Homo sapiens: one gene and its partners. The protein of the gene in region 4 interacts with the protein of the main gene of each other region in a pairwise test. Each region holds a gene or a part of one and is shown on either strand. Other genes may lie near its edges.

Region 1 (2,615 bases), on a different chromosome or scaffold from region 4:
CGTGACTCCGGGCAGCCGTTCCCCTCCAAGGCCGTCCCTGTAGACGGGGAGGGGCTGCTGGGGACTAGGGGCAGAGGCTGTGAGGCCAGGGCTGTTGGAGTCCTCGTGGGGCCTGCAGTTTGAGGAAAGAGGGAACATTAGCTCCCGGCCACCAGCCTTTAGAAACCAAGAGTGGTGCTAAAATAGAAAAGAATTTAACAGAAGAGAGGGAAGGAGGGAAGGAGAGGAGGGGAGAGGGAAGGAGGGAAGGAGAGGAGGGAAGGAGGGAAGGAGAGGAGGGAAGGAGGGAAGGAGAGGAGGGGAGAGGGAAGGGCGGGCTTCAGGTGGAGTAATGAGATTGATAAGGAAGAATTCACAAGTCACGCGCCCTCCAAATGGAGACAGCCGTTGCCCTTACTTGACCTCAGTTATCTGGCTCTCGGGGTGAACGTCCTTCCACAGTCTCCATCTTGGGCTGGCTGCCCGGAGCCCGCATAGTTGTCAGATTGAATTTATCCTGTATCTTAGTTTCCTCCTTTATACTCTGAAATGGGGAGTCCACAGACCATAATAATCCCAGAATCTGAGACCTGGAGAGGACCTTGGAGAGCAGGAAAGCTCTCTCCCAATTTTGAAGCTGAGGAAACTGAGGCTCAGAGAGGGTGAATGACTTGCCCAAGGTCACCCAGCACCTCAGAAGGGATGAGTGCCTTCTGCCGGCACCGAGGCTGCCTCTCCACAGCGCTGTGCCACTGGACTGCGCCCTCCATGCCTTCAGAGCCTCATGCTTCTGTCCTGGGCCCTCCTGGGTTTACCTTTGTGGCCATGAGCACCAGGTGGCCATCCCTGGTAGCAGGCGCCAGCCCCAGGGCCTGGACTTCGAGGACCCAGGCAAAGTGTGTGGGGGGTGCTGCCTGGCCACAGGGCGGCCCTGCTCAGCCCCCGCGGCCCCGGCCCCTGCAGTACATGGAGAAGCTGTCCCGGCTGGCGTACCACCCCCTGAAGATGCAGAGCTGCTATGAGAAGATGGAGTCGCTGCGACTGGACGGGCTGCAGCAGCGATTTGATGTGTCCAGCACGTCCGTGTTCAAGCAGCGAGCCCAGATCCACATGCGGGAGGTAGACCCGAGGCTACGACCCCCACCCCACACCCTGTCCACTGCCTTCCACAGGCCCCCTCGCCCAGGGGGTCCCTTCTGCTCCGTCCCGTCATGCCATAGCCACGCTTGCCTGGCACGCTCTCTCCTCCTCTGCTTGGAACATCTGTGCCTCTGCCCACCTGGCTAATTCTGACTCACTTCCCAGGTCTCAGCTTAGAGACCCCTTCCTCCAGGAAGCTCTCCTTGCGCCCCCAGGCCCCTTCCCATATTTCCTGTTGCCTTGAGGCAGGGACTTGCTCCAGCGTGCAGAGCTGTGAGTGGGCATAGACCGCTTGCCATTCCTCCCTGGCAGGCCTCGGGGTGGGGGGCTGGTTGAGGATGAGGACCCCTCAGCGGCACCCAGGAAGGGGCTGTGGTCACCCTGGGGGCTTCACATGTCCGCGGTATGCCCTGCAGCAAATGGACAATGCCGTGTATACGTTCGAGACCCTCCTGCACCAGGAGCTGGGGAAGGGGCCCACCAAGGAGGAGCTGTGCAAGTCCATCCAGCGGGTCCTGGAGCGGGTGCTGAAGGTGAGCGGCCCCACGCCCTGCCCCGGACCGTCCTAGGCGAGGCCGAGCCCCGAGCCTCATCCCCGGCCACCACCAGGATTGCTGTCCCTGCAAGGAGGCGCCATGGTCCTCTTGTGCGGATGAGGACTCGGAGGCTTGGGTCAGACCACTGGCCTCGTCCTACCCTCAGGGCCAATGGAGCCCACTGACCTGCAGACCCCCGACCCCCTTGTTCCCTGCAGAAATACGACTACGACAGCAGCTCTGTGCGGAAGAGGTTCTTCCGGGAGGCGCTGCTGCAGATCAGCATCCCGTTCCTGCTCAAGAAGCTGGCCCCTACCTGCAAGTCGGTGAGCAGCCCCCACCTGCTCCAGCCGTTTGGGCCCTAAGTTGGGGGATGGAGCCCACAGGCCTCCCTCTACCCTTGGCCCTGACCTCTCATCTCTGCCGCCCCACCCGGGCAGGAGCTGCCCCGGTTCCAGGAGCTGATCTTCGAGGACTTTGCCAGGTTCATCCTGGTGGAAAACACGTACGAGGAGGTGGTGCTGCAGACCGTCATGAAGGACATCCTGCAGGGTGGGTGCCGTCCCGGGGTGGGGACTGTTGCCAGGAGGATGCTGGGGGCGCAGCTGAGAAGTGGTGGCAGCTGAGGGGGTCAGCTAAGGCTCAAAGAAAAGCCCAGACTTGCACCTGGGGTCTGGGTGAAGCCCACTCTTCGCTGTGTGGCCTCCGGAGCAGCCTTAGCCTTGCGTCTCTGTGCTTTAGTTTCTTCTCGCGTCCTTGGCTTTGCTGGGAGGGTCAGAGGAGTGATTAGATGACATGTGGTCAGCAGCCTGGGCCTGGAGATAGCATCACGGCCTTGCTGCTTTCAGCAACGAGGCCTGGAATGAGTCACATCCCAACCACAGACCCCCAAGGCGGGATGAGACGGGTCTTCTTTGAGCAGAGTCCAGCACAGGGGCGGCTGTGGGATCAGTGCTGTGT
Region 2 (3,500 bases), on a different chromosome or scaffold from region 4:
TATTTATTAATATATTTATTTATTTTTGAGATGGAGTTTTTCTCTTGTTGCCCAGGCTGGAGTGCAATGGCGCAATCTGGCTCACTACAACCTTCGCTTGCCAGGTTCAAGCGATTCTCCTGCCTCAGCCTCCCTAGTAGCTGGGATTACAGGTGCCCACCACCACATCCGGCTAATTTTTTGTAGTTTTAGTAGAGACGGGGTTTCACCAGGTTGGCCAGGCTGGTCTCAAACTCCTGACCTCAGGTGATCCACCTGCCTTGGCTTCCCAAAGTGCTGGGATTACAGGTGTGAGCCACCGCGCCCGGCTGAGAATACCTGTATTTCTAGGCAATGGATGCTGTAGTATTTAGAGCTCCATGTCTCCCACCTAATTTGAAATGGTTCCTTTCTTTTTTTTTTTTTTGAGACAGGGTCTTACTCTGTCCCCCGAGTGCAGTGGAACTATCTTGGCTCACTGCAAAGCAAAATAAAAAGCTAGAAAAGTTTTCTGGGGAGGGAGCTACAGTTTTCTATCACATTCTTAAAGAGGTCTGTAGTAACCATCAAAAATGGTTAAATCACTGATACAGAGATCATGGTGCTTGACACCTTGTAGAAGCTCAATACACATTTACTGAACAAGTGAATGGATTCAGGGGAATTGCAGACAATGTTAGTTGTATAGAACCATTTGTTTTTGAGAGTCTGCCATAACCAGATAAATGAAACACAGTACCACTTCTATGACCAATCCCTTCCCTTGCTTATACAGACTCCTTCTGAGGAAACTGAGGCTCAGCAGGGTTAAGCAACTTGCCCAAGAGCACATGGCTAGGAAGCAGTGTCTGGTGCCAAGGCCTCTGCTCAATCCACTACACTCTCTTCCCTACCCAGGCACACTGTAAAATGGGGTCTAATACCAGCTCCTTTGTTAGGAAGCTCAGATGAGGTCATCTACATGGAAGGGCTTTGTAAGCGGAGTAATGCTGACAAAAGAAAGGGGGCATATATTCTGCTGATACTGACCAAAAGCACCCTAGCCTTAGCTATGACAAACTTTCACATATGGGGTGAGCAATAAAGTGTCCCTGTTGGACAGTAGTTTTCCTTCTTAGTGATAGAGGATCTCAAGATTTCAGAATTAGGAGAAATGAGGTTGAGTATGAGAGATGTGAGCAGACCAGAATAACCGCTCCCCTTCCCCATACACAATTCTGTCAGGTCCAATGCAAAATTCACCCTCTCCAAAAACTCTTCCCCAACTTACCGCACCCTGCTATGGTTCTGCCCTTTTATGCCGTCAGTATATTCTCTGTGATCTCAACAGGTTTCCACAATAAGAGGTAAAACCATTACCCTTCTCTCCATTCCTGACTCCTGGGCAGACAGAAACCAAAATCAGAGCCAAAAAAAAAAAACCTCAGAGATGACCCACTCCACCCCCACTCCCTTTACTCAGATGAGAATTCTGAACCTGAAGAAGTCACTTCATGAACTCCCTTGCACCAGAGGTCACACATCCCTGCTGGGGGTGAGGGGGTATTTTTCTGTCTCTTCAATAAACCAGAAGCGGCCGGGCGCGGTGGCTTCTGCCTGTAATCCTAGCACTCTGGGAGGCAGAGGCGGGTGGATCACCTGAGATCGGGAGTTTGAGACCAGCCTGACCAACAAGGAGAAACCCCATCTCTACTAACAATACAAAATTAGCCAGGTGTGGTGGCGCATGCCTATAATCCCAGCTACTGGGCAGGCTGAGGCAGGAGAATCGCTTGAACCCAGGAGGCGGAGGTTGCAGTGAGCTGAGATCACGCCAATTGCACTCCAGCCTGGGCAACAAGAGCAAAACTCCATCTCAAAAAATAAAAATGAAAAAATAAACCAGAAGCTAGCTGCAATTCTATAGAACCAGGAAGATGCAACAAACAAGCCCTGCAATGTCCTGGTACCCTCCTCACAGGCAGAACTGCAGACACTCCCTACCTTTCTCTAAGAGGTTCCCTTTTCCCTGAAATCCACCCCTCCCCTATAAGTCTCTGGATCTCATAAATACCTAATCTGCATATGTCAACAGACTGGTCAAGGTGACACCATGTAATTTCAAGATGTGGATGCATGCACGATTATTGGCTCCAAGAATAATCACTATGAGCTACAAAAACTAGCTGAAAGCCGGGCACGGGGGCTTGTGCCTGTAATTCCAGCACTGTGGGAGGCTAAGGCAGGAGGACTGCCTGAGCCCAGGAGTTTGAGACCAGCCTGGGTAATATAGTGAGACATTGTCTCCAAAAAAAGAAATTAGCTGAATTAGCTGGGTGCGATGGCACATGCCTATAGTTCCAGCTACTTAGGAAGTTGAGGCAGGAGGATCTCCCGAGCCCGGGAAGTTGAGGCTGCAGACAGCCATGACTGCGCCACTGCACTCCAGCCTGGGTGAAACTCTGGCCTGCCTCCGGCTCCTAGATGCCACCCAGAGAGGTGCCCTGGTAGACAGTGAATCCCAAATGTGGACTCTGGGGCCCAAGAAAGTAAATGGAGAGGCCTGGGTTTTCATCCTGGCCTCCAGGGTACCAGTTCAGGCCTCTCTTGAGTATCCCAAGCTGCTTCTCAAGCATATGTCTGGACCTCCAAACAAGAGCAAAGCACCTGTAATCCCAAAGCACTTAGCCTAGAGCTCCATTCCCTGTGGGTACTCCATTTAAGGGCTCCTGGGTCCCAGATTAATCCCCATATTTTAATCTGAGATAAGCAAACTCTCCATGGGGTAAACTTCCGTGAGACACCTCTAACAAACCTGGAGAGGCCAGAATTCGGGGCAAAAAGCAAGTGATCTGGATGTGCATACTAGGAGTGACTGCACCCCTACTGGCCAGGCCAAAGGCCTGGATCCCAGGCTGTCCCAGGAGATCCCAGTGACTGTGGATGATGCGTTCTTGTGGTCACACTTGGCTTACTTTCCCCACGGAGCCGAGCATCAGTGGTGCTCTGAAGCACAGTGCAGGCCACAAAAACTACCAGGGCTCTGAACGCTAGAAATCCCCACAGGGCTCAAAGAGGGGCAGGAGGTAGCAGCCAGCTGGGAGGTGGATGAGACAAGGCGTTAAATTGCCCTGGTCTTGTGGCTGACCCACAGGGGAAAATTGAGGGTTCTTCATATTTGTGCCAGAATATCTGTCTAATGTTGAATCATGAACCAAGCTCTCTTGTCTAAAATATTCCTAAGTGTCACTTGGTGCTTTGCACCAAATATAGGAAGGAATCCTTTATCATCTTGTGGAATGGTTCAAACCTTGACTACACATCAGATTTGTAGTCTTCAAACTGGTGAGTCTTCAAAACATACCTAGACCAACTGACTTAGGATCTCCAGAGGTGGCCCAGGCTCTGGTATTAAAAAACAAACTTCCCAGGAGATTCTAAAGTCTATCCAGGACTGTGAATCACTAGAACCCCTTATTTACAGAGGAGGACAGTGAGTGCCAGAGCCTCGGACTCATTTGCCCAGCAGCAGAGCTGGCTGG
Region 3 (3,500 bases), on a different chromosome or scaffold from region 4:
ATATCTTTATAGGAATTATAAATTCCTAATTCTCTGAACCAACGTACCAGAGCTATTCCTATGAGGAGGTTATCTAAATAGATTAATAAAGGAAGCCTTTAATAACTAGTAACATTATTTTCTCAAAGTAGATTATTAAATAAATATATCTGTGATACATTTATTATATTAATAATTGTATTTGGGATACATTTCCCCTCTCCCCTTAAAAACAGTTGCCAGTCAGATAAGTTTTAATGACATAAAAGCAGGGGAATAATTTGCTTTACCCTGTATGGGAATGTCAGGCCTTGGTCTTGGCCTTCAGGGGTAAAATGTAGCTTATTAGTACCAGGGAAGAAAGGGAAAGGAAAGTATAAAAATATACAGCCTGGGCAACACAACCAAGCCTCATCTCTACTAAAAATTTGTTTTAAATTAGCTGGGCGTGGTGGTGCACACCTTTAGTCCCAGCTACTCGGGAGGCTGAGGCACAAGGATCACCTGATCCTAGGAGACTGAGGCTGCAGTGAGCTATGATTGAGCCACTGCACTCCAGCGTGAGTGACAGAGTGAGATCCTGCCCTTTTAGAAAAATAGATAGATAAGATACCTTATTTAAGAATATATCCTCCCATGCCAGGCGGGGTGGCTCATGCCTACAATCCCAGCACTCTGGGAGGCCAAGGCAGGCAGAGCAATAAATACTATTGTTGAAATTGTCAAGCCGGGCACAGGGGCTCACGCCTTTAATCCCAACACTTTGGGAGGCCAAAGTGGGCGGATCACCTAAGGTTAGGAGTTCAAGACCAGCCTGGCCAACATGGCAAAACCCCATCTCTAGTAAAAACGCAAAAAAAAAAATTAGCCAGGTGCGGTGGCACATGCCTGTAATCCCAGCTACTCAGGAGGCTGAGGCAGGAGAATCGCTTGAGCCAAGGAGACAGAGGTTGCAGTGAGCCAAGATCACACCACTGCACCCTGCACTCAGCCTGGGCAACAGAGCGAGACTCTGTCTCAAAAAAACAAAAGAAAAGAAACCGTCAAAGTTCTTGTATTTTGCTCTCTGCTATTTGGAAAATTAATTCCTTTCTGACTCTTAGTTTGCTAACAAGGAAATGAACATAGCAATAATAATAAAATATAAATTTAATATATATAAGATAAAATGAGACAAATTAAATGGCTTTATAAATTCATCTAATGGTCCCCTGCCTCATAATCAGTCCTGTTTAGTCATTGTACTTGCAAATATTATACAGACAGTTAATAGGATTATTTATATTCATGGTACTTTCAGTGCCTAGAACTGAGTCAGAAAAGGTGGAATCCGTGGGTCAGCTTTTAAATGAGAACATGCATCACTTAGTTTAGAATCCCCTGCGTGAGTCACTGGGGAGGAGATAGGAGTCGGTCCAGATAAATTTCTGTTGCCATTGGTTCTACCAAGAAAACATGGATCTATCAACAACTTTGGCTTTCCCTGTTCACTTGGGATATGATGCCTCACAGAGGATTAAAAACAAAGATTTCCTTTCACTCTTACTCGTCTTTCTGCTCTCTAATCCCAAACAGACTGGGAGGAAGCTGCACGGGAGTCCACGTAATCCCTCCTCGCCATGCCTGGAACGGGCATGCAATGTGGGCCAGGAAATCAGTGTTTGCTTTACAATCCAATATAACAATTTCAAGCTGGACAATTTAAATCATTATTCATCCTTCTGGCCAGTGACACTGAAATGTATTATGCAGACTTTCTGTGCTAGCCATCCCTAAAAAACAGCAATGCTATCATGGACAAACTGACTCTGAGGTTTTAGGAATTACTTCTCAGCCAGCAGAGTGTAGCTTGTCCTTTCCCTAGCTGTTTAAGTTTTCAGAAATCATTAATTTTAAGAATTCTTTAGTCCTTAAAACAAACTATATGCTGTTTGTTTGTTTTTTGAGACAGGGTCTTGCTATGTTGCCCAGGAAGGTCTCGATTTCCTTGGCCCAAGCGATCCTCCTGTCTCAGCCTCCCTAATAACTGGGACTACAGGCATGTGCCACCATGCCAGACTCAAACTATATGATTCTCTAGAATCTCATGATTCTGATGCCAGGAATGGCTTCTGAGTAAATTCTAGGGTGTTTAAGCTGCCTTCTGAGTAAATTTGAGGGTGCCCTTTTCCTAAAGAACATAAACGCCAAAGTGTTTGTCTCTGAAAGCCATTGTACTAGTCTCTGTCACCTGAGTCTCACATCTGCCTGCTTTTCTGGCACCCGGCCTCACCTCCAGCAGACCCAGGGCCGGGCGCTGGCACCTCTCCTGCAGCTCATCCGCCAGCTCCTTCAGGGCCTTGCTCTGCTGGACCAGCCGGCTCTTGCTCTCCCGCAGTCTCTGCAGCGTCGCTCGCTCCTCCGCCTCCAGCCGCCTCAGCTGCCGTTGCTCCTCCTGGGCCAGAAAGCCACGATGCTTCTCAAACTCCAATCTGAAGCGCTGCCTCTGCATTTCCACTTTCTCCTGAGGTGACACCGTGGATCACATCGTCAGTGCTTGGCCTCCAGCAGCCATGTACAGGACAGTGCTGGAGAAGGTAATGTCCAGACTTCCCCGGGCTCCGTAACTCTGTGGACTCACTGGTTGCATCCTAACAACATGCACAGACTGGAGTCCATTCATATAAGAAGTAGCCCAGGAGAGTTTTCAAATTAAGTTTAAAAAATACTGTTGGACTGGAGTTCCCATTTTGCCACAGGCTTGGGGGCAAGGCACTTTTATACTGAAGTTTCAGTACCATATACAAAATGTGAGGTTTTGGGGAGGTCGAGGCAAGAGGAGTGCTTGAGGTCAGGAGTTCAAGACCAGCCTGGGTAACAAAGCAAAATGCGACCCCATCTCTAAAAAAATTAAAATGAACCGACCAGGCATGGTGGTAAGCCCTGTAGTCCCAGCTACCCACAAGGCTGAGGTGGGAGGATCACTTGTCTAAGAGCTCGAGGCTGCAGTAAGCTGTGATTGCACCACTGCACTTCAGCCTGGGTAACAGAGCAAGACTCCATCTCTTAAAAAATGTGGGGAAAAAGAGGAGTATGTGGATTACAGCTAAATATCTATTAAACTACAAGAACAGTGATTAGCATAGAGCAGTCACACAGCAGAAGTTACTATTTACTACTAGATCAGTCGCTAGAACCACTAGAAACAACTGAATGATGAAGAAATGTTTGTTTGAATAAGAAAAGGCTGAGAGATGAGAAAATATGAATGCTGTTTCATAATATGGTAATAGTGAACACAACCATAAGCCTAACATTCTCTACAAAGCCAAGAAAGAACTAAGTGATGCTCAGGCCACTGATTTCAGAGTTCACGTCAGAGAATTAATCCCAATTTCTACCTGAATCTCACGTCTTCAGTTTCTGAATAGACCTAAGGAACATACTTCGTCCCAGGCTTAGTTTCTAGATTTTCTTCTCTCAAGATAAGTATATCGAAAACTAACTTTAAGCTGAGTACGAGAGGTAAATTATTCCCTCAA
Region 4 (3,500 bases):
AACTCTTATTCTATTTAAGGCACTCTAAATGCATTAGTTTGATCAAATCCTCACATGAGGTAAGTACCTCTAGTCCACAAGTAAGGAAACTGAGGCACAAAAAGGTTACATGGCTTGCCTTCATTTCAACCAGCTAGTAAATGGTGGAGCCAGGATTCAAACCCAGGCAAATCTCACTCCCGACCTGTACTCAGGAGTCACCACATTCTTCTGGCACAAAAGTAGAGCCCCTCAACAGCCAAGCTAAGGAATTTGAGATTCAGCATCAGGTATAAAGATTGAGAATGAGGTGATAACTCATTGATAATGCTTATATGCATGGTTCATCACTACTCAGAATCTTCCTCTAAAAGAATTGCATTATCCGATGATATTCCCAACAATATTCACTGATAGTGATATGTATTCACTGACAAGTCCCATGACTACAGTATTGAGTTAGATATTATAAAGTGCTCAGTCAAATCTTTATCAGGAGAGTCCATTGTGTTGACATTCCATCACCACAATTTTTAATCCTAAAGACTTAATTTTACCTGTTATTCACCTAACACTTCTGCTAGAAATACAACTCATGATAATAAACAGAGCAAAGTATGTTTATTTTCACATGTTACCCGAACATATATGACCTTCCTACATGGAAAGCCACTCTGCTCAAATAAGACGTTCATCCCTTAAAAACTTATTTCTCCATCCTAGGTTCAGGTCTTAAAAATCAGTTGGGTTCCTCAGTTACAGATGTACAGGACATTACATCTGGACTCTCCTAGGAGGGCAGGGGTGAACTCTTCCTCTGAATATCCACAGTAGCCAAATGACTCCTTCTCCCACTGTGGAAAACCACAGATGACTGTCTCCTAATGATTTACTGCCCAACCCCCAGCCCACAAATCAAAGAATTGGGTTTAGTGAGAAATAAGAAAGAATGGTGGCCAGTGGATACAAGAAGGGGAGGGAATGCTTCAGTTTATTTTCTTAAGCCAATTAATGATGAAACGGCATGGAGGGAAAGAAAGACACAACATAGTTGTAAAAGACTATTTTTCCAGATAAATGGCCAGATATCAGATTCTGTAATAAGTACTTCCACCTATCAAAACACACACACACACACACACACACACACATATTAACTTGAGGTGGGGAAGAAGATATAGATCTTAAAAACACAAGGTAATATTCAAAAACCATTCTGGATATCACCATAAAATGAAACTTTGAAGCACCCTTGGAAATCAATGAATCTGGACATTGCAAACCCTACAAACTATATATTGCAGGCAGAGGTGTTTGGTTGGGCCTGCAGAATTTTTTAAAATTGAATCAACATTTCATAAAGTAGAGAAAACTTACATAAAAACCCAGATTTGTGGCTTCTCTTAAAAAGTGGAAGACCTGGCGGCCCTGAACCCCCTTGCCCAAATGGTAACAGTGAGCAGGAGCTGAGAAGAAGCTGCCACCTTTAGAGGAGTCTTGAACTGCCAGTTTCCCACCATCCCCGCCACTCCCTCTTGTTCTGAAATACAAAGGCTGGGTGTCAAAAAATTAAATAAAAATAGGAGAGAGCTTAAGGCTTATACCCACCTTGCTTCACTCATTTATGGTACCTGCAAATTTACAGGCTCTGCTCTAGTCTAATCCATTCATTTAAAGAGGAGCAACCCAGCTGCAGTAGTAAAGTGACTTACAAACTCAATCCACTAAAAGTCAAATTTTCATTCAGGAGGGATTATTGCCTAATGATAACTAGAGAGTATGCAAAACTAAATTAGGGCTGTGTGGCTATACAATGCCAAAATCTGTGGGGAAAAGTTGAAATCTCAATCATTTTATTTACACATCCCCCTCACCCCGACTCCAAATAAAGGGCAAAGGAAGATGCTCAAGTTTTCAGAACAAATTTACTGCCTAGTTTGGCTTGGTATGGACAGTTTTAATGTGCCCAAATTTTAGATATGACTTCCCTTCATTCTGAGGGCATAATTTATTGAGAAGACATACAAAATGCTTACCGTAGACATGTAAATACTTTTAAAAAGGAAACTGGATAAAAACATTAAACAGGAGGGGAAAAAAAAGGATGTTTCTTCTTCAGAAAATTTAACTGATAAATTATAAGGAAACTGAAACCCACTAAGATTTATTGAGCATGTGCCTTAGGTACTTTGCACACATTATACCAATTAACTCTCACAGCAGCCCAAGGAGGGTAGTATTATTACTCCCACTTCACAAGTAAAGATGCTAGGCCTCAGAGGCATTCAATAACTTGAAGAGGACCTGACTTTTCAATCAGGGATCATGCCCAGATTCAAACACTGATGTGCACGTTTGTAATGCTTGTGAGAGTAGGGAACATGGTTTGCCCGTGCACAGGGCCTAGCACATTGATATTTGTTGTGTAAGCCTGCCCATCGCCAAAGCACAAAAACTGCCATGTACAAGCACTTTCATTCATAAATGTCATCATTTGAACAACCTTGACATATACAACTAATTCATTTAGGCAGGTTCTTGAACAAGGTTTAGGAAATGTTGGTTCTTTATGTTGTGTAGTTAATGACCCCTACACACATGTTTACTAACATAATAAAATCTCTTTTCTAAATAAATTTCTCCTTTAGAATTGTTATAAAAGTCAGTAGTCAAGAATTTGGCTGAATATACAAGCCAAAAGCACGTTTGCTAATGAATAAGAATAATAACTAAAATCAAAATAAGAATTAATTCAAGAATGAGTGCTTTTGAAGAGTCAGGAATTTGATTAAAAATTCAGTTCCCTTTTTTTCCATAATGAAACAGTTCTTTAACCACAAAACAGCTTTTATAATAATGCCGAAGAGTATGGTTCCAAGCAAAACACTCCCCCATTTTAATCATGGCTATTATTTTTGAAAATGAAAATGACTGAGGTCATTGTAATCTATTTTAGGGTTTGCATGGGTTGATGGTATTTTTGTCTTGGCTTTGAGTTCTCCACATTACCCACTAAATGTTATGGGCTTTACCGTGTGCCCTTTCAAATCCCATTCTTTCTAATAACATTGTATTTTATACACATAAATTAGAGTAAATTCCACTTTCTTTCCTAACAACTCCAGATGTGGTCCACACTTTCAAAAGGACTAGAACTTGCCTTAAAAAAAATTCAGTATGTACTTCTTAGAACAACTATGTTTCTATATAGATAAAAATGCTGTATGGATGTTTAAATGCTGAATAATTAGTAAAACCATAGGACTTGTGGTTTTTTCACCAAAGTGAAATATGAAGATAATATCTATATATTTACTCCTTCCAACTTACAAGGACATACACAGATAAAAAATGCCTAGAAACAAAACCATCTGGGCAGAGTTCTAGACCTACTGATACCAATAGGGAAGGGGGATCTGTATTCAGACAACCATTTAGAACACATCAGTGAGGCTCTCTGTCCCCTGTAGACCCAGTAGACAAAATTAACAAATATCTAAATACACTAAAGTTACACAGTC
Region 5 (3,500 bases), on a different chromosome or scaffold from region 4:
AAACGATTCTTCTGCCTCAGCGTCTCGAGTAGTTGTGATTACAGATGCGCACCACCATGCCTGGCTAATTTTTGTATTTTTAGTAGAGACAGTGTTTCACCATGTTGGCCAGGCAGTCTCAAACTCCTGACCTCAAGTGATCCACCCGTCTCGGCCTCCCAAAGTGTTGAGATTACAGGTGTGAGCCACCGGCGCCCAGGTACTCTCATCTTTTGAAAGTTGCTATTTATGGTGGTTTCTGGTTTCCTTCAAACTTGTGTTGTATTTCTGTTGAGGTAATTTAGCATTTATACTATGAAAATCATTGAGAACTTTTAGAAGAAGCAGTTGTTTTGGGAACCAGACAAGCTTTTGTGCAGTTTTTTTTTTCAATGGTGGAAAATAATTTATTTCTCTACCTTGAGTGTAAGGCAAGGGAAAAAAAACTCTTACCAATTGCGTTTTGGAAAACGCAGTTGGTAATATCTCTAGATAATATCTCTGGAGACGTACATAACTTTAATTTTCCTCGAAATTTGCAATATGACAAAATTGAAAAGGGAAATAATACCTCTCACCATTAAATACAAGAATATAATAATCTGAACAATTGAAATTATACTTAAATATGTTATTGACTCTAAAATAATAGAAATGCCTTAATTCCAGACAGTCTTTAAGAAAGCATAATGTGGCTAGGCGTGGTGGCTCATGCCTGTAATCCCAGCACTTTGGGAGGCCAAGATGGGCAGGTTGCTTGAGCCCAGGAGTTTGAGACCAGCCTGGGCAACATGGTGAAACCCTGTCTCTACAAAAAAATACAGAAAGTAGCCAGGTATGGTGGCGTGCATCTTTAGTCCCAGCTACTCAGGAGGCTGAAGAGGGGAGATGGCTTGAGCCCATGAGGCAGAGGTTGCAATGAGCTGAGATCACACTACTGCAAGCCAGCCTGAACAACAGAACGAAATCCTGTCTCAAAACAACAACAACAAAAAACAGAAAGAAAAGAAAGTATGTTTTACATATTTCCATTTTCTCCTTACTCTTCTGAAAAACAAAAATGAAAAGTTTTCATTTTTTTTAACATTTCCTTTAAATGTAAAATTTTATATAACTGTTCTTGGCTTTGGTAGTCTGTTGTCAGAATCAAGTACAGAGATTGTACTGTCAGACGACCTAAAACTGTTTTAAATCTTAAGTGTCCTAAAGAGAGGGCACATATTAGCTTGGAAGCAACTGGTGAAACTTGATATTCAGAGACAAGGCCGTAGAGGTTAAATGAAGTTATATAGTAAAAAACAGCCTTTACGAGTTAATGAAATGTTACAACCAACGTATGCTGAAGTGAAGCAGTATAAAAGAAGGAAAGAACTGGAAGGTCATCCTTTTGTCAGTGTTGTTACCTTTGTCTCTGTTCTTCAGATTGTTTGAGAAAATGAAGTGATTTCCACCAAAGACTTCATACCCAGCTTTCCCCCCTTTTTGTGCCCTTTGGCATTCTCTGCTTCTCTATCCCCCTCATGTCAGCAGAGATGAATTAGGAAATAGGTAGGAGGGAGAGAGAGCAAAAACAGAATTTTTCCATTGTTTTCTAGCTGTTTTGGATGAATTTGAGCAGTAGGCCCTTGGACTTCACAAAGTGCTAGTATTGTTTTGAACATCCCAGCAACCATTGCATTATATTAGTATTTCAAAGTGAAAATAAGAAAGACTACAAGTGTGGGAGGATGGGGGTAAAATCCAACTTAGATGGACCTGCAGAAAAGTTGAAAGATTGATTTTCAAGTATTTTTATTTGTATATATAAGAGAAAGAATGAGCTAAAGACTCTAAAAGAGTAGCTGGTGCATATTAAAAATTATAGATTAGCAAGCCACAAATTTCTGTTCCGAAAAATGTTTTAAAGTAATGTGGCTGAAGTATTAGATTATTAGGAATATTTTGAGTGTTCTAACAAGAGTGCCAAAATTAATTTGGAGAGTAACGACTGTTTCTACTCTTTGGACTCTTGCCAACATTTGTGGGTAAGGTTTAAGGAGAAGGTGCCTATCTTTCCCACCTCACTCAGTAGTAGTTTTCTCATCCTTGTAAAATACTTAGGGAGATTCTGTGTTGTATTGCTTGAACCTCACAGGTTTAAAAGACAGGAAGGTGAATTTTTGCACTCAAAGAAGTTATTTACTAATTTTAGAATAGAGACTGAGGGAATACAATAAGCAGAGATAGAGTGATATGAATGAATAAGGAGTGTATGTGAGAGAGAGTGAGCACAGGTATAGCAAGAGATTATTGTCATCTCCCTATTTTATATAATCAAATAGTTGAAATTCTAAAAATTCAGTTTATTTGGCCAAAGATTAATTTAGTCAGTCACAGGTATTTGTTATGAATCTGTTATGACCTAATATTGTGCTAGGTATCAGGAATTCATTCAGTAGTGAACCAAAGTGCCTACCTTTATGGAGCTTACATTGAGTGGTGGATATCAATAAATAGTAAGCAAATACAAGCTGGGTATGGTGGTGCATGTCGTAGTTCTGGGTACTGGGGAGGCTGAGTTGGGAGGATTGCTTGAGCCCAGGAGTTTGAGGCTAGCTTGGGCAACATACTGAGACCCCTGTCTCTTAAAAAAAAAAAAAAAAAAAGTAAAAGCAAGCAAAACACAATCAATATAATTTCAGTTAGTGATAAATGCCTTTAAAAAACACCAAGATAAACTGTGTGTCGGTTAAGATGCAATCATAAGTCAGAAGCCACAGGTATTTTCAAGAGGGTAAGTTTAATAGAGTTACTGACTATATCAGGGAAATTAAAGAAAATTAAAAGAATACAAGAATAGTTTTAAGAAGCAGCCACTACTGATAGGGCTGAGATAGAGTGCCCAAGTAAGAACCTTTTTTGCCAAGGCTAAGATTCTTACCTTATTGGAAGGAATATGGCCATGACTCAGTAGCAGAGCAGTCACTGGTGTTGCTCTGGTGGAACTTACTGGAAATGCATCCTTCAAAACTTGGTGGGAAATATGCCCTCTAGGTCACGGGTTGGCAAACTGTAGTCCTTTTGCCAGCTGTTTTATAAAAAAAAGTTTAAATAGAACACAGCTATGCCCAATCTATTTACATATTGTCTGTATCTGCTTTCTCACTACAAAGGTAGAGTTATGATGTTATAATCTGCAAGCCTAATTTACTATTTGTCCCTTTAAGAAAAAGTTTATAAATCCCTGTTCTGGAGTACTCTAAAAAACTGTTTATGGGGAGATATCTTGTTAGAGATACTCTGCTTTGAAACCTCCCAAGGGAGAGGAAGCACCAGTGAAAGCTGATGGTCTTTGAGTGTTGCTGACCACCATTAATATCAAGAGCTAGGCACTGGAGAAGCTGCCTCCACTGCAGAAGCTTGCCAAGGATACATGAGTCAGGAACAAGAGCTCCTTTTTCTTGTAATATCTCTCTTTTATCCCCTGCTGACAGAACTTAACATCATGGCACCTAGAAAAAGAAAGATATTTATTTAAGGAA
Region 6 (3,500 bases), on a different chromosome or scaffold from region 4:
GGCCGAACAGGCATGAATAAGCCTCTTTATTGTTGGTTTTATCTTCCCTTCAGTGCTTGGGAATACAGAATGATCTCTAAAAGTTTACGCTTTATTAACTTCATGAGCCACCAGAAAAATTCCTTCAGTATCATCAGGATAATTTAGCAGAGGTACCTTCAGAGTCCTGATATGATTCTCAGCCTCACTCTTTTCTTTCTTAAAGTGCTTCATAAGCTCCTGGATATTCTGTTCGTGTTTTGTTTTCACACTCTGCAATGATGATGTGAGATCTTTCAGCTCCCTCTGGTGCACATCTCGTTCCAGCTTTAACTGTGTGATGATTGTAGCTGTTTCTTCATCCCTGGATTTTGCCTGTGCAGTGAGGTCAGAAAGGTCCTTAAGCACTGCTTTCTTGGCTCTCTCTTCCTCAGCCAATTTATTAGCAAGATCTGCTCGGATGGCACTCAGGTCCTTGATGGACTCTTGCATCTCAAGAAGTTTAGCTTTGTCCTGGGCCTGGCTCTTCTTGAGCTCTGCAATTTCTTCCTCCAAGTGAGCTTTCTCAACTTTCATCTGGCTTTGGATCTTACTCTGCTTTTTCAATTCGCTCTCCAGTCTATGGATGGTATCCAGGGAATTCTTAACTTCCAATTCAAGGTCAGCTTGATGAGACTTAATATCACGTAATTTCTCCTCCTTGGAGTGAAGCTCCTCCTCCTGAAGGGCACGCTTTGTTAGGACATCATTCAATTCCTTTCGAAGATTCTCTATTTGTTGTAATGCTGCATACAGCTGGGTTTTCAATTCATCCTTTTCTTTTAAAATCTATCAGGTTAAGAACATGAAGCAAAAGAAAAAAATAAAAGTTACTGTAAAATTCACCATAGACTCTGCCAGTCAGCAAAACAATGTTTAACCCACAAGGAAAAAAAAAATTCATCAAATAATTTTTGTATTTTTCCCATTTTTTAATAAAAATACTTTTAGGCCAGAAAGGTGGGGGGGAATATATAATTGTCCTGAAATAGCAACACACTGAAATATGTATTTCAAATTTTCATCACCAAAACTTATTTCAATCCATGGTCACAAATAATTATTTAAATGTAAGATAAAATTGAGCAAACAAATGGGGAAAGCAAAGACTCTCATTATAAAGAAAACTTACTACAGGTTGAAATAATACACTATTACCTAAAATAATACTGATGTACATTCCAATGATACACTTTTAAAAAGGAGAAACCCCAAAACAGAGATGGAAAATAATATAGGGAAGCATGCAGATACAATACAAGAAAGTTTACGGTACATTCAGCCATTATTTTTAAAATATCAATGGTGACGAAAACTCACCAATATGCAACTGGGAGCCTGGAAGCCCACAAAGAAATGAGATTAAGTCAGGAAAGGTTGGGAAAGGGCTCAAGAGAAAAGTCAAGGGCCTAGAAGTCCATCATTCTATGCCAGCCTCTCTAAGATTTACATGGAAGGACAGAGGCCAAGGGTTAACTCTTCTGGCCTCTAATTCTCACCACCTAATCATTGCAAATAAAATAATGGGCAGCCAAGGGAGCCAAGATTGTTTTCTATACAACACTGGCACCAAAGATAATCTCCGTGAAACAGGAGGGAAAAAAAGGAACCAATTAAGACTCATTTCAGAATTACAAATAATGAGTTAAAATGCAAATATTTGCAAGACATTTCTACACTTCACATTTTATACTTCAGTGTAAAACAATTTATGACAAAAATTTAATGAGTCAATCACTCCAAAAAAAAGTTTCCCCAATCCTGCTCAGTTTTAACTGAAAGAAAGAAAGAGCACAAAGATAACATGAGAACTAACAAAAGGAGATGAATAAGCAGTTGAGCTCTGACCAGAAAGAAGTGAATTTGATTTTCAGTTCAATCACGGGCAATTCTATGGCCTCGGGGAAATCATTTCTCTTACTAGAGAAAATAATAATAGCTATTTCATAAGACTGTGATGAAGATTAGTGAGAAAGGGGAAACAAAAAGTTGGAGTAGAATTTAAGTTCGAGGAGGTATTAGGGTCTCAGGGAGGTGTTTATGCAAGGTAGTGATCAAAACTGTAAAAAGAGCCAGGCCCAGTGGCACACCCTATAATCCCAGCTATTTGGAAGGCTCAGGCGGGAAGATAGCTTTGGCTCAGGAGTTCAAGACCAGCCTGGGCAACATAGCAAGACCCCGTCTCTACTGTGAAAAGACGGGATAACTGAGGAGAAGGAACTCTGGAACACAGATGAAGGAGTTCACTTCCGAAAGAATGTAAGGTAGGAGAAATATAGATGAGCCTAAGGGTAGATGTATTATTTTTCTATTGCTTCATAACAATTTCCAACAGACTTAGTAGCTTAAAATACACATTTTTTATCTCACTGCTTCCAATAGGTTGAAAGGCCAAGCAAGGTATTCAGCTTAAGGTCTCCTAAGACTAAAATCAATGTATCAGCTGGCCAGGGCGCTTGTCTGGAGGTTCTGAGGAGAATCCATGTCCAAGCTCATTCAGGTTTCTGATACAACTTGTTTCCATACAGTTGTAGGACTTTGGGTCCCCATTTCCTTGCTAGCTTTTGGTCAGCGATTATTCTGAACTTCTAGAAGCCAACCTTGTTCCTTGGCTCATGGACTCTGCCATCTTCAAAGCTTGAACAGCTTGATGAATCCTTCCGAAGCTCCAACTCTCTCTGACGTCCCCTTCTCTCAATAGCCAGAAAAAAAAAAACCTTCTATTGAGGGCTCATGTGATAAGATTAGGCCCATCCAGATAATGTGATCACAGGAGTAATGTCTTATCATATTCATTGGTTCCAGAAATTAGTGTGACTTCTTTGGGGAGGGTCATTCTACTTACCAAACTGGAGAACACAAGAACTGATAGAATCAAATTTGGGCTGTAAAGATAGCATGGGAGGGACTGAGCGAGGGTAGGGACCTTCAATATAGTGATATATGTTTGAAGCAGATAACTTAGCCCCCTTGGCATGAGTTGAGAGACTTATAGGCAGTGCTGAGGATTAAAATCATATTTTCATAATGAAGTCATACCATGTAAAGTGTCTTTAATTATGAAATATTATATCTTCCTGAAGTTGGATTAAAAAGCAAAGATATTTCTTTTTCACACATAACAGTAAGTCCAGAGACAGGATGGTTCAAGAAGAATCCCTCAAAGCTCAGGCTCTGCTACTCTATAACTCTCCATCTTTTGCTGTCTTTGCAGTGTTCCAAGCTTCACATCAATTCCTGACAAGGGTGACAGCCAGAGGGCAGACAGTCACAGACCATGTGAGTCAAGTTTGGAATTTCTTTGGCAATACAGATACTAAAAACTAAGCTCTGTCGATCTGATTCTGGTTAATTGCTTGCCTAGTAGCCACAGCTTAAGATTCTGTCTAGGCATTTTCTCTGAGTCTGAAAATGTCAGTGTCTTTACTGTCATCTCAATACCCTGGACATACCCAGGGCCCTCAAATGAATAGCCTTTATCT
Region 7 (3,500 bases), on a different chromosome or scaffold from region 4:
AGATTCCTATTCTTCCAACTCATCCTACACTTATCACCAGAAAAAATATTCTTCTTCCCTACTCAACCACTTTCAATAACTCCCCACTACCTAGCAAAGCCCCAAATATCCCTTAGTCTCATATCCAAAAACCTTCCACAATCAGGCCTCACACTCCCTACTTAGATGCACCTCCCATTACTCCCCAGCATACAGGCTATATTCCAGCTAAAGGCAGGTCTCTTGACTTCTGGAATGTCCTATCTGGAATGTCTTCTCAATGACTAATTGAGAGTCTCTATCAAAATCCAGTCATCTTCCCAAGGCCAAAATGGAAAGTCAAAATGGGAAATGAAGAATTTTCAATAGATTTTCCCTATAAAAGGATCCTTTTATAGGAAACAATCAATAATACATAGAAAAACAATCACTGATACACAGAATGGACAGTGTAAAATAAGCATTACATATTATAAAGTACATTTCAAAAAATTGCATAGCCAAATGATAAACCATATTTCATAAGATTCATGACACTGATTATAAGAGATAACATCATGTTGTATAGCACTCTGCCAATTAAGCTATGACTCACACATTTTTAGAAACTGGAATTTTCATTTTCTTCTTATCTAAAGAACTCTGATTGAGTTATTCAACGCATAAAGAAAATATAAACAAAATAGATTGGCCAAGGTGTTCCCAAAAATTCTTACATATTCAGAATCCAACTCTACCAAATTGCACGTCAACTAAGAGTTACTGCTGTCTATGCTTTTCCACACAATATCAACTTGGGTCACCACGAGCACTAGAAATGTATCACTTAAGAGTGCTCCATTACTGTCTCCAGGATTTTCTCCAATCCACTAACATCCAATGTCCAATTTTTGATGCATATTCACAAACAATGAATTAAGTTGCCAGCTTTTTCTCTGCAACATGGCTGAGAGCCATGTAAGACATATCCCAATTTCAGAGATGTTAAATGTGAAAAAATAACTTTCTTTTAGAAATGATGAAATTTGGGGCTTGAATCAAATACAAAGAAACTCGCTATTTGAGGATGTAAACACAGGCATGTACAAAAATGACCAAAGAAGAGAGAGCTAAAACAGAAAATAGTTTTCCTCTCTTTAGTTGAATGCTAGGAGATCAATATCATCTCCCAGCACTAATCCTTTTCAGCTTTTGTCACCCTACCATTTGATCCCTCCCCTCTTCAGAGGACACCCTCCACACTGATGTCCTCCATGACACCAATTAGAGCTGGCAGGAAAGGAAACCGACTCCCTGCAGTTCTTCCCTCAAAGAAACCATTCTTCTTTTCTCTTGGTACCTGCAGAATTCTCTTCCCTGATATGGCAAAACCTCTAGGATCTACCAATTTGAGCTACAGACAGAGGTAACAACCTTGTTATGAAGAGGACCACGCCATTAAAAATAATGACTACATACATGAGTCTGGTAATTCTCATTTTTAAATAAAGCAGCAGTGCTTTTTAAGCTTTCTCCAAGATTTTTTTTTTTTTTTTTTTTTTTGGTAGTAAAGCGTAAGTTACAAATGGCCCCATTTTTTATACAATTTCGTAAGTATTTACTGAATGCTTTAAGTGTCTAGACCTTTACTTGGTTTGGGAAAGAAACCTGAAGAGAAATAACTCCCTATCCTCATCAAGCACCCACCCAATATAACTGGAGAGAAAAATATATACTCAAGGCAGGTTAAATATTACATTTGTTTTCTAGGTCTAATATAGACCTTTCTGCTTTCTCTCTCTCTCTCTCTCTCTCTCTGTTTTTAGTTTGTAAGGCAGGGTTATAAGAACAATGTATCAAAATGTCAGCAATCTAAAAATTAAGTTGTCAGCTTTTTCTCTGTACTGCAAATTACAAAAGAATTGGTGCTAATAGAAGCTTACAATTCCAAAGTATGCAATTTAACCAATCATCGCAAGGACTAAAAATGCAACACCAAAGACATTTCAACCAAGTAATCTGCAGTTCTGGCATCTAATTTCAACTTGTCTTCTTGTGCCATTCTTCCCAATTTGTTTCTTCTTTATGCTTTGAAACTGTGCTCTGGAATTGCTACATAGTTAAGAAAGAACTGCCCAGAGCTCCTACATACATAATACACTCACATGAAAAATGTCAGTCATGGAAAAGACAAGGAACATCTGCAGCCATTCTGTGGTTCTTCATTTTTTATGCTGATATTACTATAAATTCAGAAAGGAAAACATGAAATATACTTTATTGCTTCCGAATTTCAGTCTTATCATTTATTCAACACTAATTTGGGTGAAATATGTCTCTGATCATCTCTGCACTAGAATTCTAAATTAGGATTAAAATGCTAAATTATAAAATAATTAGTACATAAAACAAAAATGGAAATGGAAATCAATTACTCCAAATCACTGCAGATATCTTCTACTTATGAAACACCTTTTTCCATTTTTTCCTATTGCCAACTGCAATCACATCACTTAAAAATAAATGAGAACATTGCCTACCCAATAAGTAAATTGCATCTTTAGAGAGACCACATACTTTTTTTAAAAGACATTACTAATAACCTAAATCAAGAATTTAAAAAGAATGCTGTTTTAGTACAAAGAACAGTAAGAAATATGTTGCCTCAATATATAAATAAAAATATACTCATTTTTCTTGTTCTTTAATTTTGTAAATGGCCCTTCTAAAAAATTACAGTTTTCTCTACAAAAGGAATATTCAGTGCTTTCTACTATTTCACAAAAAACAAACAAACAAAAAACGTCTCCTTCCTTACTCTTGGAGACACATTTTCCCATGCAGTCTTATATTCATTTACACCTTTCAATTCTCCAAACAATACCTCGCAATGCAGTTCAACTTGAGAAAGGAGTCTCATTGATTGATCAGGCAAAGTTTTAAAGCCAGCAAGATGCTTCAGATGGTCTGGTTTTGCCTGCCCCACCCTTGTTTCCTTTGAGCCATAGTGATGTCACAACACCAGGCAGGACAATGACTTCACTGCTCCAGTCCTTGCTTCTGAGCACAGAATTCCCCACAGCCAAGGCAAATCAAATAACAGCAGAACCCTCCCGGGCTGAGTGCCTGATGAATTCCCAACAAATCAGCAGCTAGCTAGCCGTTTGAAAGAAATAGATGCAGCGATTGCACGATTAAGGATCTCTCTAACTGAAGTGGTGCTAAAGATAAATTTGATTCATAGGTTTCAATGGTGAGTCTATATTTCACGGAAAACTGATGGGGTACTTAGGGGAGACTATGGGAATTAAAGACGGCCAGGGTAGATTACTCAAGAACCCTCTCTCCGCCGGGCGCGGTGGCTCACGCCTGTAATCCCAGCACTTTGGGAGGCCGAGACGGGTGGATCACGAGGTCAGGAGATCGAGACCATCCTGGCTAACACAGTGAAACCCCTTCTCTACCAAAAATACAAAAAAATTAGCCGGGCGTGGTGGCGGGCGCCTGTAGTCCCAGCTACTCGGGAGGCTGAGGCAGGAGAA

The links.
Region 1: the proteins of MECOM (region 4) and NIBAN2 interact in a two-hybrid assay, tested with the Homo sapiens proteins (one study listed by BioGRID).
Region 2: the proteins of MECOM (region 4) and TRIM26 interact in a two-hybrid assay, tested with the Homo sapiens proteins (one study listed by BioGRID).
Region 3: the proteins of MECOM (region 4) and TRIM58 interact in a two-hybrid assay, tested with the Homo sapiens proteins (one study listed by BioGRID).
Region 5: the proteins of MECOM (region 4) and HSF2 interact in a two-hybrid assay, tested with the Homo sapiens proteins (one study listed by BioGRID).
Region 6: the proteins of MECOM (region 4) and CEP128 interact in a two-hybrid assay, tested with the Homo sapiens proteins (one study listed by BioGRID).
Region 7: the proteins of MECOM (region 4) and EPB41L3 interact in a two-hybrid assay, tested with the Homo sapiens proteins (one study listed by BioGRID).

What each region holds. Positions count from the first base shown.
Region 1 is NC_000009.12:127,507,459-127,510,073, reverse strand, and holds part of NIBAN2 (protein Niban 2), read left to right. Parts: intron 1-942; coding exon 943-1,098; intron 1,099-1,535; coding exon 1,536-1,652; intron 1,653-1,873; coding exon 1,874-1,981; intron 1,982-2,095; coding exon 2,096-2,207; intron 2,208-2,615. UniProt on the Homo sapiens protein: May play a role in apoptosis suppression. May promote melanoma cell invasion in vitro.
Region 2 is NC_000006.12:30,203,407-30,206,906, forward strand, and holds part of TRIM26 (tripartite motif-containing protein 26), read right to left. Parts: intron 1,360-3,500; 5' UTR 1,250-1,359; intron 1-1,249.
Region 3 is NC_000001.11:247,863,687-247,867,186, reverse strand, and holds part of TRIM58 (E3 ubiquitin-protein ligase TRIM58), read right to left. Parts: intron 2,483-3,500; coding exon 2,252-2,482; intron 1-2,251. UniProt on the Homo sapiens protein: E3 ubiquitin ligase induced during late erythropoiesis. Directly binds and ubiquitinates the intermediate chain of the microtubule motor dynein (DYNC1LI1/DYNC1LI2), stimulating the degradation of the dynein holoprotein complex.
Region 4 is NC_000003.12:169,653,713-169,657,212, forward strand, and holds part of MECOM (histone-lysine N-methyltransferase MECOM), read right to left. Parts: intron 1-3,500.
Region 5 is NC_000006.12:122,402,652-122,406,151, forward strand, and holds part of HSF2 (heat shock factor protein 2), read left to right. Parts: intron 1-3,500. UniProt on the Homo sapiens protein: DNA-binding protein that specifically binds heat shock promoter elements (HSE) and activates transcription. In higher eukaryotes, HSF is unable to bind to the HSE unless the cells are heat shocked.
Region 6 is NC_000014.9:80,784,739-80,788,238, forward strand, and holds part of CEP128 (centrosomal protein of 128 kDa), read right to left. Parts: intron 808-3,500; coding exon 157-807; exon of another isoform or gene 1-156.
Region 7 is NC_000018.10:5,537,498-5,540,997, forward strand, and holds part of EPB41L3 (band 4.1-like protein 3), read right to left. Parts: intron 2,928-3,500; exon of another isoform or gene 2,843-2,927; intron 1-2,842. UniProt on the Homo sapiens protein: Tumor suppressor that inhibits cell proliferation and promotes apoptosis. Modulates the activity of protein arginine N-methyltransferases, including PRMT3 and PRMT5.